Linked DNA regions of Homo sapiens: all the other regions are reported to be linked to region 3. Evidence: microRNA targets listed by miRTarBase, many of them from high-throughput screens and not tested one by one. Region 3 holds a microRNA gene; each other region holds the end of a gene's coding sequence.

What was found. Region 3 holds the annotated microRNA hsa-miR-4531 (AUGGAGAAGGCUUCUGA, at 1,551-1,567, shown strand). A microRNA usually pairs through its seed, bases 2 to 8, with sites in the 3' UTR of a target mRNA and lowers its output. Matches are read on the target gene's strand: a 7mer-m8 pairs with bases 2 to 8, a 7mer-A1 pairs with bases 2 to 7 and ends in A, and an 8mer does both.
Region 1: the mRNA of POU3F1 is a reported target of hsa-miR-4531. Seed matches in the 3' UTR shown: 7mer-m8 at 707-713.
Region 2: miRTarBase lists SULT1B1 as a target of hsa-miR-4531. Seed matches in the 3' UTR shown: 7mer-m8 at 1,934-1,940.
Region 4: miRTarBase lists PHC2 as a target of hsa-miR-4531. Seed matches in the 3' UTR shown: 7mer-m8 at 833-839.

Annotation. Positions count from the first base shown.
Region 1 is chr1:38,041,684-38,045,683 of GRCh38, reverse strand. It overlaps POU3F1 (POU class 3 homeobox 1), which reads left to right. Exons shown (of 1, transcript NM_002699.4): 1 at 1-1,855. The coding sequence ends at 296. Among named protein-coding and RNA genes, the nearest start is that of POU3F1, 3.1 kb to the left of the region's middle.
Region 2 is chr4:69,723,330-69,727,329 of GRCh38, reverse strand. It overlaps SULT1B1 (sulfotransferase family 1B member 1), which reads left to right. Exons shown (of 8, transcript NM_014465.4): 8 at 130-4,000. The coding sequence ends at 242. Among named protein-coding and RNA genes, the nearest start is that of SULT1B1, 35 kb to the left of the region's middle.
Region 3 is chr19:44,651,256-44,655,255 of GRCh38, reverse strand. MIR4531 (microRNA 4531) reads left to right here and starts at 1,524; the gene lies at 1,524-1,570. It overlaps PVR (PVR cell adhesion molecule), which reads right to left. Exons shown (of 8, transcript NM_006505.5): 4 at 1,239-1,356. RefSeq lists an enhancer at 494-553.
Region 4 is chr1:33,321,278-33,325,277 of GRCh38, reverse strand. PHC2 (polyhomeotic homolog 2) reads left to right here. Exons shown (of 15, transcript NM_001385109.1): 15 at 259-1,652. The coding sequence ends at 413. Among named protein-coding and RNA genes, the nearest start is that of A3GALT2, 2.2 kb to the right of the region's middle.

The DNA of each region.
Region 1 (4,000 bases), not on the chromosome of region 3:
TCGAGAGCCACTTTCTCAAGTGCCCCAAGCCCTCGGCGCACGAGATCACCGGCTTGGCAGACAGCCTGCAGCTGGAGAAGGAGGTGGTGCGCGTCTGGTTCTGCAACCGGCGGCAGAAGGAGAAGCGCATGACCCCTGCGGCCGGCGCGGGCCACCCGCCCATGGACGATGTATACGCGCCTGGGGAGCTAGGGCCTGGCGGGGGCGGCGCATCGCCACCCTCCGCGCCCCCACCGCCCCCGCCGGCGGCGCTGCACCACCACCACCACCACACACTGCCCGGCTCAGTGCAGTGACCCCGCGGGCCGGGCCCCCGCCGGCGCGCTGCAGGGCGCGGGCGCGCAGCCCGCCCGCGCGGCCTGGACTCTTTTTGTTCGGTTGCTTTGGATTTTACAAAAAAAAAAAAAAGCCCAGAAACTTTCGAACAAAACCAAACACCCGGACGACCCTCTCCGGTGAGCGGCGAAGACAGCCCGGTAGGCTGCGTCGCCCGAGCCCCGGGAGAGAGGAGCGAAGATCCGGAACTCGCCAACTCACCCCGGGCATCCTGCCCGCCGCCTGCTCTCTGCCCCCATCCCCTCGACGACCCCCGCCCCTGCCCCCCCGGGCTGTTCGGGGCCGGATCCCGGCAGCGGCCTCCCCAAAGCGACAGGTAACGCAGTGCGGGGTTAGGGATTCCCCGGGAGAGAGGACGAAGCGAGGAGAGTTCTCCATCCCCTCTCCCCGCGTGGACTCCTGAGCCTGCGGGTCCAGGGTGGGGGGCTGTCACTTTATTCGCTACACGCCTCTTCTCTCCTATAAGGATGCGCCCCACCCCGCTTTCCCCTTTCTCCGGGCTTGGTTTTTTACGGTTTTTATTTATTCGTGGAGCCTCTCGGCTCCTGGGGTCCTTCTAACTCCGCCCGCGCCCTTAATTTAAATCGCAGTATACTGTATTTATCGGGGCCCCGGAGGGGAGGTCGCGAGAGCCGCGTCTGTGTATAAAAGCAGGAAATAGCCAAAGCTTTAATCTAGCCTAATTTATTTTTCCCCTTATATTTCCCTACCCTACCCTCCCCCCAAAAAAAAGCAAAAAAAAAAAAAAAAAACTAACAAAAAAAATTCGAGTGTTCATTTTTCGTTTCGTTTCATCCGAGCCCCGGCTTGGTTCCCGGCCACGCCGGAGGGGTCTGCGCTCCCACACACCCAGACGGGAAGGGGCTTCTGCCCTGCTGCAGACCGACCGCCGCATAGCGCGGCCCCTGCTCCCCGCGGGGCCCTGCCCTCCTGGCCACACCAAACGAAACTTGGAAAAGTTAGAGAGATTGTTTTTTAACCAGCTGTAGAAATAAGCCGTTCCCTGAGAACCCTCCGCCTGATTCCCTGCAGCTTCCCTCTGCTCCCTTTCCAGCCCGCCGGGATGCGGGATGCCAGGGGAGGCCGGGAGAGAAATTCCCCAAGTTTGGGGTGAGGTGGGAACCATGTAAATATGTGAGATATGTACACACTGGCGGGGAGAAGAAACATTTTGTGCTTGGTTTTTATTTTTGGTTTTCCGGGTTACCCTTCCTTCCTACCCTAAAGGATTTTGTACACTGACTAATCCGAAAAAGATATTTTAATATGATTTCCGAATTTCTGACCCATCTCTATTTATTTTCTGGATGTGTTTGGAGCTTCCCCCTTCTCCGTTTCTTCTTCTGTTTGTTAAGGTTTGAATTTAAATTTTGTTATTTTATTTTTATTATTTTTTGAAACAATGTTTCGGTGCATTCTCTTTGTATCTTTATTGAAAAAAAAATAATGTAGACTGGGAAGTTCCCTTTATATTTATGTTATAGTAAATATTTTATTACTCACATAAACATGTACCCCAGGGCTGTGTCCTGTCCTTTTTACTGCTAGGGCTGGGTGGGTTTTTGGGGTGAAGCGATGGGATCCCCTGCTTCACCTCCCTGAAGTTCTGATCTCACCAGGAGAGATCTTGGAGGAAGATGACCCTGCAGACCTTCCAGGTGGATATCAGGACATGGGCAACAGTTGGGCCCCTGCCTCAGATGCATCAGTTTAGGGAAGATGAAGCTGCCTCGTGTCCCCCTGTCGTAGACAGACTCTCCTAGACCAAACCAGGGCCCGGGACAGTGAGCCAAAGACACCACATGGAATTCGGATCAGCCATTGTTCATGCACAACTCGACTGCTCTTCTCCACCAAGAAAGAAGCCCACCTCGGCCTGGGTCACCAGCCTAGAATCTATAATCCCCCACCTGACACCTCAACCCCCAACTTTCATTTCACCTTGCACTCTATATGAGAGGTCTGAGCCAACTTTACCATTCCCAGTCCTAGGGCACCTGGAAGCCTGGTGAGGCCCCACCATCCTACTCCAGCAGGCTCTCCACCCAAACTCAAATGGTGCCCAAGCCCCCCTGGATGCACTGGGAGTTCTAACAGCTTAGACAGACGTGGCTTTCATGGTCCTACGTGAGCTGGGTCAGCCTAGGGAGGGAGCCCTGCCAATTTGCTTGGGCAAAGCCGGTCTTATGTCTCTGCAAACAAACCGCTGCCCCAGCTTCTGTTGGGGAGAAGTGGAGGCACGGGTAACTGTGCCATCAGAAAGACCTGATATCTTCTTTCCAAGGTTGGGTACCCAAGACCCTCATCACCGCCACCACTGCAGGGAGTGATAGGAAGGAGAGCACAGACCTCAGATGCTGTCTTCTGGAGTGAGTCAGGGTATCTGGGGGCAGATCTGGTTCCCGACGCAGAGCTCCAGACTACCTGGGTTCCAGTCAAGACCTTATTTTCTCCTTTAAAACAACCCTTCTTAAAAATACTGATAAAAGAGCTCTTCCTGCTTCCTCCGTAGACGCAGTTCTTTTCCCCTCTCAGGAGAAGCCACATGCGGTTTCTCTCACTCTTTGTGAAGCCAAAGCTTGAAGGCACAATCTCTTAGCTGGGGAGAAAGCTGACCCTAGTGAGGGGGCGTGTGGGGCCCCTCCTGCCAGGGAAGCGGCCCAAGTCCAGGCCTGTGAGAGGCCTGGGCTCTAGCTGACGGTGTCAGGGATGTCCAGAGAGGTGTCCCCAGGGCCCCAAGTTGGTGCTCCCCGGCGGGGCTAGGGCCTCGGGATGACTGTGCCATGCTGAGAGTTCCTGGCGACTTTCTGCGCTCGGCCCTCACTCTTGGGGGGAATTGTCTCTGCAAGTACAAAGGCTGCCTCGGCTTCTAGAGGCCCAGCCCCTCACTCCCTGCTCCTTTTTTCTTCTCCTCCTCAGCTCAGTCCAGCCAGGTGAGTGAATAGCCCTGTAATTGGCACCTGTGTCCCAGCCGTTCCCCACACTGGTGGGCCAGGCAGCCTTCCCTCCCATGTTTCCTAAAGAGGAAGCTGGCAACATACCGGCCAGCTGGGCAATGGCATAGCCAGGAGCCACTGACCACCCTGCCTCAGCCTCTCATTTCCTACTCCACCAAGAACAAAACTTTGAAGCCGCCACACACTCCTCCCTGCTCCCTCATTTCTCCATTCCTGGATTTGTCCCAGCCTCAAGGCTCTGAAATGGAAGCAAATGAAGCTGAGAGCTCCCGCCGCCTGCGCGGCCCAGAGCCTCAGCAGGTTTTGAGGTTGGAAAGGGCCACCGGGAAGATGAGGCCTTTCACCGGCCTCTGCCTGCAGCTGACACCAATTGATTGATTGATTTCCTAATTGTCTGCTTAATCCTCTACAAGAGGGTGGGTTTATTATTTAAGCAAGTCAACTCAAAAATAGCAAAACAAAGCAGCCTCCCAAGAACCAGCAGCAGCTGAGGAGTAGAACAAAAAAAAATGAGAAAAAAAAAAAGTGGAAAAAGGGATGGAAGAAAATCTTTTACTTTGCAAGGATCTGGCTTAATGAGATACCAGCATGAGATAGCTACCTGGTGATCAACCCCTTGGTCGCAGAAGGCCCCTACATGGTAGGAATCTCAGCACTTTATAGGAAAGAGAAATCTTTTTCCCTGGATAGAATAGAGTTAGGACAAG
Region 2 (4,000 bases), not on the chromosome of region 3:
GACTGTTTGAATTCATTCAAATAAAAGGAAGGTCTTTCTTTAGGCCTTCTAATCTTTTCCTTTGGTATATACTGATTTCTTCTTATGGAAATATTTTATTCTTTCCTATGTTTTTTTATTTACCTTTAGGGACGGCTGGTGACTGGAAGAATTACTTCACCGTGGCCCAAAATGAGAAATTTGATGCTATTTATGAGACAGAAATGTCCAAAACTGCACTTCAATTCCGCACAGAGATTTAAAGTGTCTAAATCACACATCTGAAGAAATAAGAGATTGTCTGTAGTTGATTGAAACGAGGGCAGTTATGAATTGATTTGGGCAATCAAATGAATTTATAAAGGAGAATAATATGCTTTTAATATGTTGATTCTTTTCAATGTTATTAATCAGATCCCAGTTTTGTTCCTTTGATTCTGAGTTTCCAAATTCTCTAAGGCTAAAGTTCATTGTTAACTTTTTGTAACAAAGGAACAATGTAACCACAGGCTCTTCCTGCCTTTTTCTACACTAGTACTGATAAGAAAGAAGGGATTTATTTTACTTAATCTCCCATATATTATGATTTAGAATTAAGTTCCCCTCCCTAGTACCATGGTCCAAGAAATGCTGTTTTCATAATGAGACTATATTTCCTAACTCTGCCCCAATTTCCCTTTGCCGAAAATTTGACCCAGGACACTGTGTTCCACTGCTGTCTACCGAGTTTCAAGTTGTTCTCTGAGTCATAGCTCATCTTCCTGCAGTGCCTCTATTTGGATAACAAAGTTCATGTCCCCGATCATGTAGTTCAGATTTTGGAAATCTTTTTTCTATATCATACCTAATGTCTAAGTCTCCGAAAGGCAAACGCCTACAATAGTCTCTGTAGGATTGGTTACCTGGGAACTGGAGCTCTGTTCTGAAAAGCAGCCCTGAGGGCTGTGACCTACTTCTTATGGGGAGTCCTCTTTTTCCCAACAGACCCGTTTGAACTTCAGAGAAATCACCTACTGCTGTGTTCTGGTCACCATTTGGGAACTTCAGTTACTTAATCTTATATTTGGATAGATTTGGATACCTTAATAGCACCTTTAATATCCTAGACATGATCATAACCTCTGCAAAATATTTCCCAATCTGGTGCCCAAGGAAGACTCTCTAGGCTGAATCTCCACTCTGCCCTCTTGACCCAATGTTCCTTCTACTTATTATTACATGCTTATATCTATTTGTGTGGTCTCTGATCTATGTTTTCTTGGAACATTTATATATATATATATATATATATATATATATATATATATATATATATATGTACATTTTATTATTATACTTTAAGTTCCAGGTTACATGTGCACAATGTGCAGGTTTGTTATATATGCATACATGTGCCATGTTGGTGTGCTGCATCCATTAACTCGTCATTTACATTAGGTATACCTCCTAATGCTATCCTTCCCCCCTCCCTCCACCCCACAACAGGCCCCAGTGTGTGATGTTACCTTTCCTGTGTCCAAGTGTTCTCATCGTTCAATTCCCACCAATGACTAAGAACATGAGGTGTTTGGTTTTTTTGTTCTTGCAATAGTTTGCTGAAAAGTATGGTTTCCAGCTTTATCCATGTCCCTACAAAGGACATGAACTCATCATTTTTTATGGCTGCACAGTATTCTATGGTGTATATGTGCCACATTTTCTTAATCCAGTCTATCATTGATGGACATTTGGGTTGGTTCCAAGTCTTTGCTATTGTGAATAGTGCCGCAATAAATATACGTGTGCATGTGTCTTTATAGCAGCATGATTTATAATCCTTTGGGTATATACCCAGTAATGGGATGGCTGGGTCAAATGGTATTTCTAGTTCTAGATCTCTGAGGAATTGCCACACTGTCTTCCACAATGGTTGAACTAGTTTACACTCCCACCAAAAGTGTAAAAGTGTTCCTATTTCTCCACATCCTTTCCAGCACCTGTTGTTTCCTGACTTTTTAATGATTGCCATTCTAACTGGTGTGAGATGGTATCTCATTGTGGTTTTGATTTGCATTTCCCTGATGGCCAGTGATGATGAGCATTTTTTCATGTGTCTGTTGGCTGCATAAATGTCTTCTTTTGAGAAGTATCTGTTCATATTCTTTGCACACTTGTTGATGGGGTTGTTTTTTTTTTCTTGTAAATTTGTTTGAGTTCTTTGTAGATTCTGGATATTAGCCCTTTGTCAGATGAGTAGATTGCAAAAATTTTCTCCCATTCTGTAGGTTGCCTGTTCACGCTGATGGTAGTTTCTTTTGCTGTGCAGAAGCTCTTTAGTTTAATTAGATCCCATTTGTCAATTTTGGCTTTTGTTGCCATTGCTTTTGGTGTTTTAGACATGAAGTCCTTGCCCATGCCTATGTCCTGAATGATATTGCCTAGGTTTTCTTCTAGGGTTTTTATGGTTTTAGGTCTTACATTTAAGTCTTTAATCCATCTTGAATTAATTTTTGTATAAGGTGTAAGGAAGGGATCCAGGTTCTGCTTTCTACATATGGCTAGCCAGTTTTCCCAGCACCATTTATTAAATAGGGAATCCTTTCCCCATTGCTTGTTTTCGTCAGGTTTGTCAAAGATCAGATAATTGTAGATGTGTAGTATTATTTCTGAGGGCTCTGTTCTGTTCCATTGGTCTATATCTCTGTTTTGGTCCAGTACCATGCTGTTTTGGTTACTGTAGCCTTGTAGTATAGTTTGAAGTCAGGTAGTATGATGCTTCCAGCTTTGCTCTTTTGGCTTAGGATTGACTTGGCAATGCGGGCTCTTTTTTGGTTTCTTATGAACTTTAAAGTAGTTTTTTCCAATTCTGTGAAGAAAGTCATTGGTAGCTTAATGGGGATGGCATTGAATCTATAAATGACCTTGGGCAGTATGGCCATTTTCATGATATTGATTCTTCCTATCCATGAGCATGGAATGTTCTTCTATTTGTTTGTATCCTCTTTTATTTCATTGAGCAGTGGTTTGTAGTTCTCCTTGAAGTGATCCTTCACATCCCTTGTAAGTTGGATTCCTAGGTATTTTATTCTCTTTGAAGCAATTGTGAATGGGAGTTCACTCCTGATTTGGCTCTCTGTCTGTTATTGGTGTATAAGAATGCTTGTGATTTTTGTACATTGATTTTGTATCCTGAGACTTTGCTGAAGTTGCTTATCAGCTTAAGGAGATTTTGGGCTGAGACAATGGGGTTTTCTACATATACAATCATGTCATCTGCAAACAGGGACAATTTGACTTCCTCTTCTCCTAATTGAATACCCTTTATTTCTTTCTCCTGCCTGATTGCCCTGGCCAGAACTTCCAACACTATGTTGAATAGGAGTGGTGAGAGACGGCATCCCTGTCTTGTGCCAGTTTTCAAAGGGAATGCTTCCAGGTTTTGCCCATGCAGTATGATATTGGCTGGTGGTTTGTCATAGAGGGCTCTCCTTATTTTGAGATACATTCCATCAATACCTAATTTATTGAGAGTTTTTAGCATGAAGGCTGTTGAATTTTGTCAAAGGCCTTTTCTGCATCTATTGAGATAATCATGTGGTTTTTGTCTTTGGTTCTGTTTATATGCTGGATTACATTTATTGATTTGCATATGTTGAACCAGCCTTGAATCCCAGGGATGAAGCCCACTTGATCATGGTGGATAAGCTTTTTGATGTGCTGCTGGATTCGGTTTGCCAGTATTTTATTGAGGATTTTTGCATCAATGTTCATCAGGGTTATTGGTCTAAAATTCTCTTTTTTTGTTGTGTCTCTGCCAGGCTTTGGTATCAGGATGATGCTGGCCTCATAAAATGAGTTAGGGAGGATTCCCTCCTTTTCTGTTCATTGGAATAGTTTCAGAAGGAATGGTACCAGCTCCTCCTTGGACCTCTGGTAGAATTCAGCTGTGAATCTATCTGGTCCTGGACTTCTTTTGGTTGGTAAGCTATTAATTATTGCCTCTATTTCAGAGCATGTTATTTTTCTATTCAGAGATTCAACT
Region 3 (4,000 bases):
AAAATTAGCTGAGTGTGGTGGCGTGTGCCTGTAGTCCCAGCTACTCAGGAGGCTGAGGTGGGAGGATCACCTGAGCCCAGGGAGGTCCAGGCTGCAGTGAGCTATGATCACGCCACTGCACTCCAGCCTCGGCAACAGAGCCCCTTCTTTAAAAAAAAAGGGCGGTTCAGTAAAATTATGTAATTTATGTAAAATTATGTATTATAAAATTATGTATTATCTCTTTGCCTTTTTCTTACCTTGCTCTTGATCTCAGCCTCAGTGTGAATCTGGGGAAATCTTATTGCTGTGAGCCTCAACTTTCTCATCTAGACAATGGGGATATATAGTACTTGCTCCATCCAGAGATAACCAAGTAGGTTACACAAGGTGACGGTGAGGTGGTTACAGTCTAGAGTGGGGGTGTCCAATCTTTTGGCTTCCCCGGGCCACATTGGAAGAAGAAGAACTGTCCTGGGCCATACATAAAATACACTAACACTAACAATAGCTAATGAGCTAAAAAAATTCGCAAAAAAAAAGTCTCATAATGTTTTAAGAAAGTTTACAAATGATGTGGCCTGCAGGTTAGACAAGCTTGGCCAAGAGGCGGAGGACCAGCTTTGGAGCCGAGCGCTGATTCAAGGGCCGCTTCTGCCCTCTCGTGGCTGGTCTTTAACCTGGGCAGGGCAACAGCTGCTGACTGTGCACAGCATGGGGTCACATGGGATTCGGGGGAAGTACCGGGCACAGAGCAGGCACACCCCAAAAAGCAGGTGCATCCACCAGCCAGGATTCAACCACCTGCTAAACGCCTCAACCGCAAAACAGAGATGTCAAAACAGAGATGCCCCCCACTGGGGGCCCGAAGTCAACCTCCTCTTTTTCTCTTTTCTGAATCTCCCTCCTCTCTTAGACCAGGAGTCCAGGCCCCAGTCTGTCCTGCCTCAGACCCAGGGGTCCAGGCTCCCAGCTTCTCCTCCCTCAGACCCAGGGGTCCAGACCCCCCAGCCCCTCCTCCCTCAGACCCAGGGGTCCAGGCCCAGCCCCTCCTCTCTCAGTCCCAGGGGTCCAGACCCCCAGCCCCTCTTCCCTCAGACCCAGGAGTCCGGGCTCCCAGCCTCTCGTCCCTCAGACCCAGGGGTCCGGGCCCCCAGCCCCTTCTCCCTCAGTCCCAGGAGTCCAGGCCCCCAGCCCCTCCTCCCTCAGTGCTAGAAATCCAGACCCCCAGCCCCTCCTCCCTGAGACCCAGGACTCACGTGCTCCAATTATAGCCTGTGGGCTCTGGGTTGCTGCGAGCATCGCAGGTCAGGGTGGCCTCATTCTGGCCAAGGTACCAGTTGTTATCATAGCCAGAGATGGATACCTCTGGGGGGTCTGCAGGAAATGGATACAGAGGTTCAGAGACTGGGAGGCTTTGGGGGGCCTGGGGCTACGCGGGATTCACGACACTGCAGGAAAAGGCCCGGGGATATTTGGAAAACAGCGGGAGCTGGAGAGGCCTAGGAGGAGTCTAGGTAGATGGGGTGCCACAGAGAGCAGAAGCCTAGGAGTCCTTGGTCAGTGGGGACATGGAGAAGGCTTCTGAGGAGCTGCTTTTCTCCACTAGCTTTCCTGGGTAGCCTGGACCAGGCATGTCTTGGGTGTCCTGCAGGAAAATGCCTCCTCCTTTTCTCACTCATAGGCAATGACCACTCACAACACACAGCAGTGTATTCAAGGTTCTGACAAGTCCTGCAGGAAAGAGTCCCAGATAACCCTGCTCTAGGCTGCTGCTCAGCCATCCCATACGTGATTGACAGCGAAGACCTTTCAATGTCCTTGGGGGCAGGCCAATGGGACAGGGTTTTATTCGGGGGCGAGGGGTAGGAGTCAGTGTAGATCTCCTCCTCGCTCAGACCCAGTGACAGTGTTGAGGGACTCCAGTATAGACAGTACCTGAGGGAATCTGTGTACCAATTGCCTGGCGGGGAGTAAGCAGTATAGACAATGGTGGGAGGAACAGTATGAATGATGTCTAGAAGAGCTTGTGTGGATATTACTGATGGGTTCAGTGTAGACAGGGTGTTGGAATATTACAGCAGATGCTATATTGTCGGGCCAGTGTTGAAAATGTGGTGGTGGGGGTGAGATCACCCCCACATATACAGTGTGTCCCCGGGAGCTGACGAAATTAAGACAGGCTCTGTGTATGTGTGTAGACAGTATTTGGATGAGCCAGTGTAGATGATGTGGGAGCTTAGTCTAGATCTGTGCTGTCCAATATGGCACCTACTGGCCACATGTGACTACTGAGCACTCGAAATATAGCCAGGCCGAAATACACACCAGATTTCAAAGGCTTTACTAGGACAAAATAAATGGGAAAGATCTCAAGAATAATTTTAAAAAAACAATTACAAGTTGAAATAATATTTTAGGTATATTGGGTTAAGTAAAGGCAATTATTAAAAATTAATTTTGGCCAGGCACAGTGGCTCATGCCTGTAATCCCAGTACCTTGGGAGGTTGAGGCAGGAGGATCACTTGAGCCCAGGAGTTTGAGACCAGCCTGGGCAACATAGGGAGATCCTGTCTCCAGAAAAAATAAAAATAGGCCGGGTGCGGTGGCTCACGTCTGTAATCCCAGCAATTTGGGAGGCCAAGGTGGGTGGATCACGAGGTCAGGAGTTTGAGACCAGCCTGGCCAACATGGTGAAATCCCGTCTCTACCACAAATACAAAAATTAGCTGGGCACTGTGGCCAGGGCTTGTAATCCCAGCTACTCGGGAGGCTGAGGCAGGAGAATCACTTGAACCCGAGAGGCGGAGGCTGCAGTGAGTTGAGATCGTGCCACTGCACTCTAGCCTGGGTGACAGAGCAAGACTTCATCACAAAACAAAAAAACAAAAACAAAAACAAAAACAAAAATTAGCTAGGCATGGTGTCACACGCCTGTAGTCCCAGCTACTCAGGAGACTGAGGCTGAGGTGGGAGGATCACTTAAGCCCAGGAGGTTGAGGCTGCAGGGAGCTGTGCCACTGCACTCCAGTCTGGGTGACAGAGTAAGACCCCGTCTCAAATAAATAAATAGATAAATAAATAAACAAATAAATTTCATCTCTTTCTTTTCTTGTTTTTGAGATGGAGTTTTGCTCTGCTGCCCAGGCTGGAGTGCAATGGCGTAATCTCGCTCATTGCAATCTCCGCCTCCCAGGTTCAAGTGATTCTCCTGCCTCAGTCTCCCGAGTAGCTGGGATTACAGGCACCCGCCACCGTGCCTGGCTAATTTTTGTATTTTTTAGTGAAGACAGAGTTTCACCACATTGATCAGGCTGGTCTTGAATGCCTGACCTCAGGTGATCCACCTGCCTCGGCCTCCCAAAGTGCTGGGATTACAGGCGTGAGCCACCGTGCCTGGCCTCTTTCTTTTAATTTTTTAATGGGGTGGCCGCTGGAGAATTTAAAATCCTATATGCAGCTTGCATGCTATTTCTGTTAGACAGCACTGGTTAGAGAGTCCTGGGGCTGTCAGTGGAGATAAATGTGTGGGTGTCAATGTCGATGATGCCATGAGGGAGCTGGTGGAGGTAACGCTGTGCAGGAGAATCAGGACAGATGCTGTCAGGGGGCTGTGCAGACAGAACACAAGGAGGCCAGTGTGGTGATGTGGGGTGAGACTGGATAGCCTGTAGATGAGCCAGTGTAGACAATATTGGGCAGAGGAACATGGAGACTACACTGGGGGACTCTGCAGACACTGCTTAGGGGAGCCAGCACAAACAATGTGAGAAGATCAATGCAACTAGCACCCGGCGGAGACAGTTGATCGTGGCTCAGGGGAACTGGTCGATACAATGTGGGAGGTGAATGCAGACAGTTCTCCAGGGAGTCAGTGTAGACAGTGTCAGGGGGCACTTTAGAGAGTGCCTAGGAGAACCAGTGTAGAAAAAGTGGGGTGTTTACATAGACAGTGGTCATAGGAGCCAGTGTAGACACTATGGGAGACAGTGAAAACACCCCACAGCTGGTGGCCAAAAT
Region 4 (4,000 bases), not on the chromosome of region 3:
GGGTCCGCCCAGTTCATGGAGCAGGGGTCTGAACAGGGGAACATAGGAGGAGGCCCAGATCGCGGCTGCTGTGGGTGAGTTGCACAGCCTCTCTCAAGCTGCAAAATAAGAACAGCAGCGCCTTCCTCAAGGCGTGGTTATGAGGACTAAAAGAAATAATGGATGCAGATAACTAGATCTAGATAACTAGATGCAGTGGCTGCCAGAGGTGAACACTGGCGGCTTGGATTGACACTGTCTTTGGTGGTACCCCCTCAGGCTGCCAGGAGATAGCAGAGGAATTCCGTGCCCAGGAAATCGACGGGCAAGCCCTGCTGCTGCTCAAGGAGGACCACCTGATGAGCGCCATGAACATCAAGCTGGGGCCCGCCCTGAAGATCTACGCCCGCATCAGCATGCTCAAGGACTCCTAGGGCTGGTGGCAGCCAGGATTCTGGCCCAGGGCGCCTCCTCCCGACTGAGCAGAGCCAGACAGACATTCCTGAGGGGCCCAGAAATGGGGCCGGTTGGAGGGCAGGGGCTCTCCCTAGGGGCATAGCTGGTGAGGAGGTCTGGGCACCTCCTCCATGGCTCTCAGGGGCCTTTCATTTCTGTGGGAGGGGCAGAGAGGTAGGTGGCACAGAAGATGGGGCTTTATGCTTGTAAATATTGATAGCACTGGCTTCCTCCAAAGTCCCAATACTCTAGCCCCGCTCTCTTCCCCTCTTTCTGTCCCCCATTTTCCAGGGGGTATATGGTCAGGGCTCCCCAACCTGAGTTGGGTTACTTCAAGGGCAGCCAGCAGGCCTGGATGGAGGCCTAGAAAGCCCTTGCCTTCCTTCCTCCCACTTCTTTCTCCAGGCCTGGTTAACTCTTCCGTTGTCAGCTTCTCCCCCTTCAGCCTGTTTCTGCAGCAGCCAGGGTTCTCCCCCCTACACCCTCTGCAGGTGGAGAGAGAGAAGCTGGGCCCAGCCGGGCCGTGCCTGCTGGCACAGACGCCTTAACGCTGTGTGTATGACTGTGTGACTGTGTGGGAGCCTGGACTGACAGATAGGCCAAGGGCTACTCTCTGGCATCTCCAGGTGTTTTGTAGCAAACAGCCACTTAGTGCTTTGTCCTGGACTCCACTCAGCCTCAGGATGGGGAATAGCCAAGAATGGCAGCCTCAGCGCAGAGGCAAGGTCAGAAAGAGACGGCGCTTCAGAGTTTCCTTTCCAGACACCCCTCCCCGCACTGTGAAGTTCCCCTGACCGCCCTCCTGGTTCACAAAGAGCATTAAGAAAGCTGCGGTGGTCTGAGCAACATAGCCCAAAGGGCTGAGCCTCCTGGCCTGCCTGCCCGCCCACCCTGGGAGTCCCAGTGGTGAGGCTCAGAGAACTGCTAAGGGGAAAGAACAGCTGGAGTTTCTGTTGATGTGAAGAAGGCAGCTCTTGGCCTCCCACTCCCACACTTCTTTGCCTATAAATCTTCCTAGCAGCAATTTGAGCTACCTGAGGAGGAGGCAGGGCAGAAAGGGCGAGGGCCTGCCTCTGACCTGCCGTGTCCTTTGCAGGAAGGAGGTAGGCACCTTTCTGAGCTTATTCTATTCCCCACCCACACCCCCAGGCAGGGTTGGAAATGAAGGACTTTTTTAACCTTTGTTTTGTTTTTTAAAAATAAATCTGTAAAATCTGTCTCTTTGGTGCCTTTCTCCCCTAGGAATGCCTGTCTCTGGGCCCAAATGGCTACTTTTCACCCATACAGACAGGTGGGTCCCTGGGCTGGGGAAGGGACCTTAAGTGGATGGCATATCCTCCACACTTTTCTGGAGCTGGGTCATTTGAGGGTGCCCTCAGCTGCAGTTCACACGGTAGATACCAGCTTTCTTCACACGGTGTCCCTTGGAGTGAGAGGGTCCAGAAGCCCTTTCTGCTCTGCGCCCCCCTACCCGCCATTCCCACTTGGGAGATGATGACTGTTGGGCTAGCAGCCTCTGGACACCTGGGGCAGAACCCAGACTCTCCCATCTTCCAGCACACACCTCTCGATAGAGCTGCACAGCATCCAGAATAGCCTTGGGATGGCTTTGGTTCACTGAGCACTTTTGCATGCTCAAATAGAAAATGATTAGGGCAGAGATGAGGCATCTAAGCCTTGAATAAAGAAGGAGAAAGGGCATTCCAGACCGAGGCATAAGTGCAAAGGCACAAGCATGAACGTGGAAGTGCAAATGAGAGGCAGGTGAGCTGGCTGGATTAGACGTGTGTGCTGCTAACCGTGACCTGTGTTGACCACATGCCTCTGAACCAGGCACTGTGCTAGAAATGAGACTGGGGTGAAGCACAGAATAACCATGTGCCCTCTTGCGTGGAGTGAAATCTACCCCACATCTATGGGGGGAGGGGAAAAAGAGGCAGCTTGGCCTTACTGCTCCTCCCCCTTCATCAGGTTTTTCCCTAAGGGACCATTTCTACCTGTTAAAAATTTAGGTTATGGCTGCTCACATCTGTAAACCCAGCACTTTGGGGAGGCCGATGTGGGAGGATTGCTTGAGGCCAGGAGTTTGAGACCAACCTGGGCAACATAGAGAGACCCCATATCTACAAAAAAATACCAAAAAATGGCAAGGTGGTGCATACCTGTAATCCCAGCTATTCTGGAGGCTGAGGTCGATCACTTGAGCCCAAGAGTTCAAGGCTGCAGTGAGCTATGATTGCACCACTGCACCCCCAACCCAGGTGACAGACAAAAACCCTATTTTTTTTTAAAAAAAAAGCAGGGGTGGGGGTGGTTTGAGGGTCAGGCCACAACCTACTGAATCACAGTCTCTAAAGGACAATTACTTACTTGAAAGTAACTTTCAAGAACCAACACTCACATCTTAATAACTCCTCTTTGGAAAGCCTATTAAAATGGAACTGTCTTGGAGGAGAAACACACTGATTAGTTGATCCCCAGGGGGTAGAACTAGGGACTGGAAAGCCTGTCCCAGGAGGCAGGGAATGGCTGGCAGGACCCTGAGCTGACGGGAGGAGGAGGATGCTGAGATTGGGGAGTGAGCCCTGGGGAGCCCCCAGGCAAGAACGAACGCCCCATGTGCTGCCGCCTCTCCTGCTGCTGGAGTGCAGGCCACGTGCGCAGGTGCACCACTGGCCTATAGGACTCTGGGCAGTTCTTTTCACTTTCTGGACCTTAATTTTCCCTTTATGGAAGAAAATGAAAACCAGGCCCCACCTGAGTTTGTTGTGTGTAGCAAAGAGGGAGGGAACCAAACCTACTCCTAAAAGAAGATGTGGTGAATTTGATTCACACCAATAAGTATCCATCTTCTTTAGATGAAAAGCTCCAACCTGCTGCAAGTTTGCAGGGTGCACCTGCAATAGGCATTTGCTATTCCTGTTGTTTACACTTCACACTGAATTTCACAGACCTATTTCCATCATGATCCACAATTTAAAGAAATATTTCCCAAACTTGTATACACATTTCAATATCTATCAACTGAAACAAACATTTCATGAAACAAAACCTACCCTTACGTACAATATAGAATATTTTCCATTGTATTCCTGTTCGTATTTTAAAAATCTTGGTCACGACCCACTAAACTCATTACACGGCCTTCAGATAGGTCACAACTGGAACTTTAAAAAGCACTGCCCAGAGTAAATCACAACGGTTCAACATCCACGAATTTACATGGTTCTCTCTCCTGGGTGACTGGTGTATGTACTGGTGTACATTCTACTGAGAAGGTAAAGGGCTCCACTAGGTGAACTGTCCAAGGTCACAGGTGCCGAGTGCCCTTCAGATCTGGCTGAGGCTCTGTGCAGAACGGCTTTTCCTGCGTGGCAAACACCATACCTTGATTGCCAGCTGTTCCCAAGAACCAAAGACACTTCCCCTGGGGAGGGAAGAGGAGTCTGTACAAAATGACAGAGCCTCCAGCCAACCAGAACTGGCCTACTCAGACCCACCCTCTTCCAGGTGATTGGCCCCAAAAGGGTTGCCAGCCCCACTCCACCTTGGGGCCAGCTTCCCC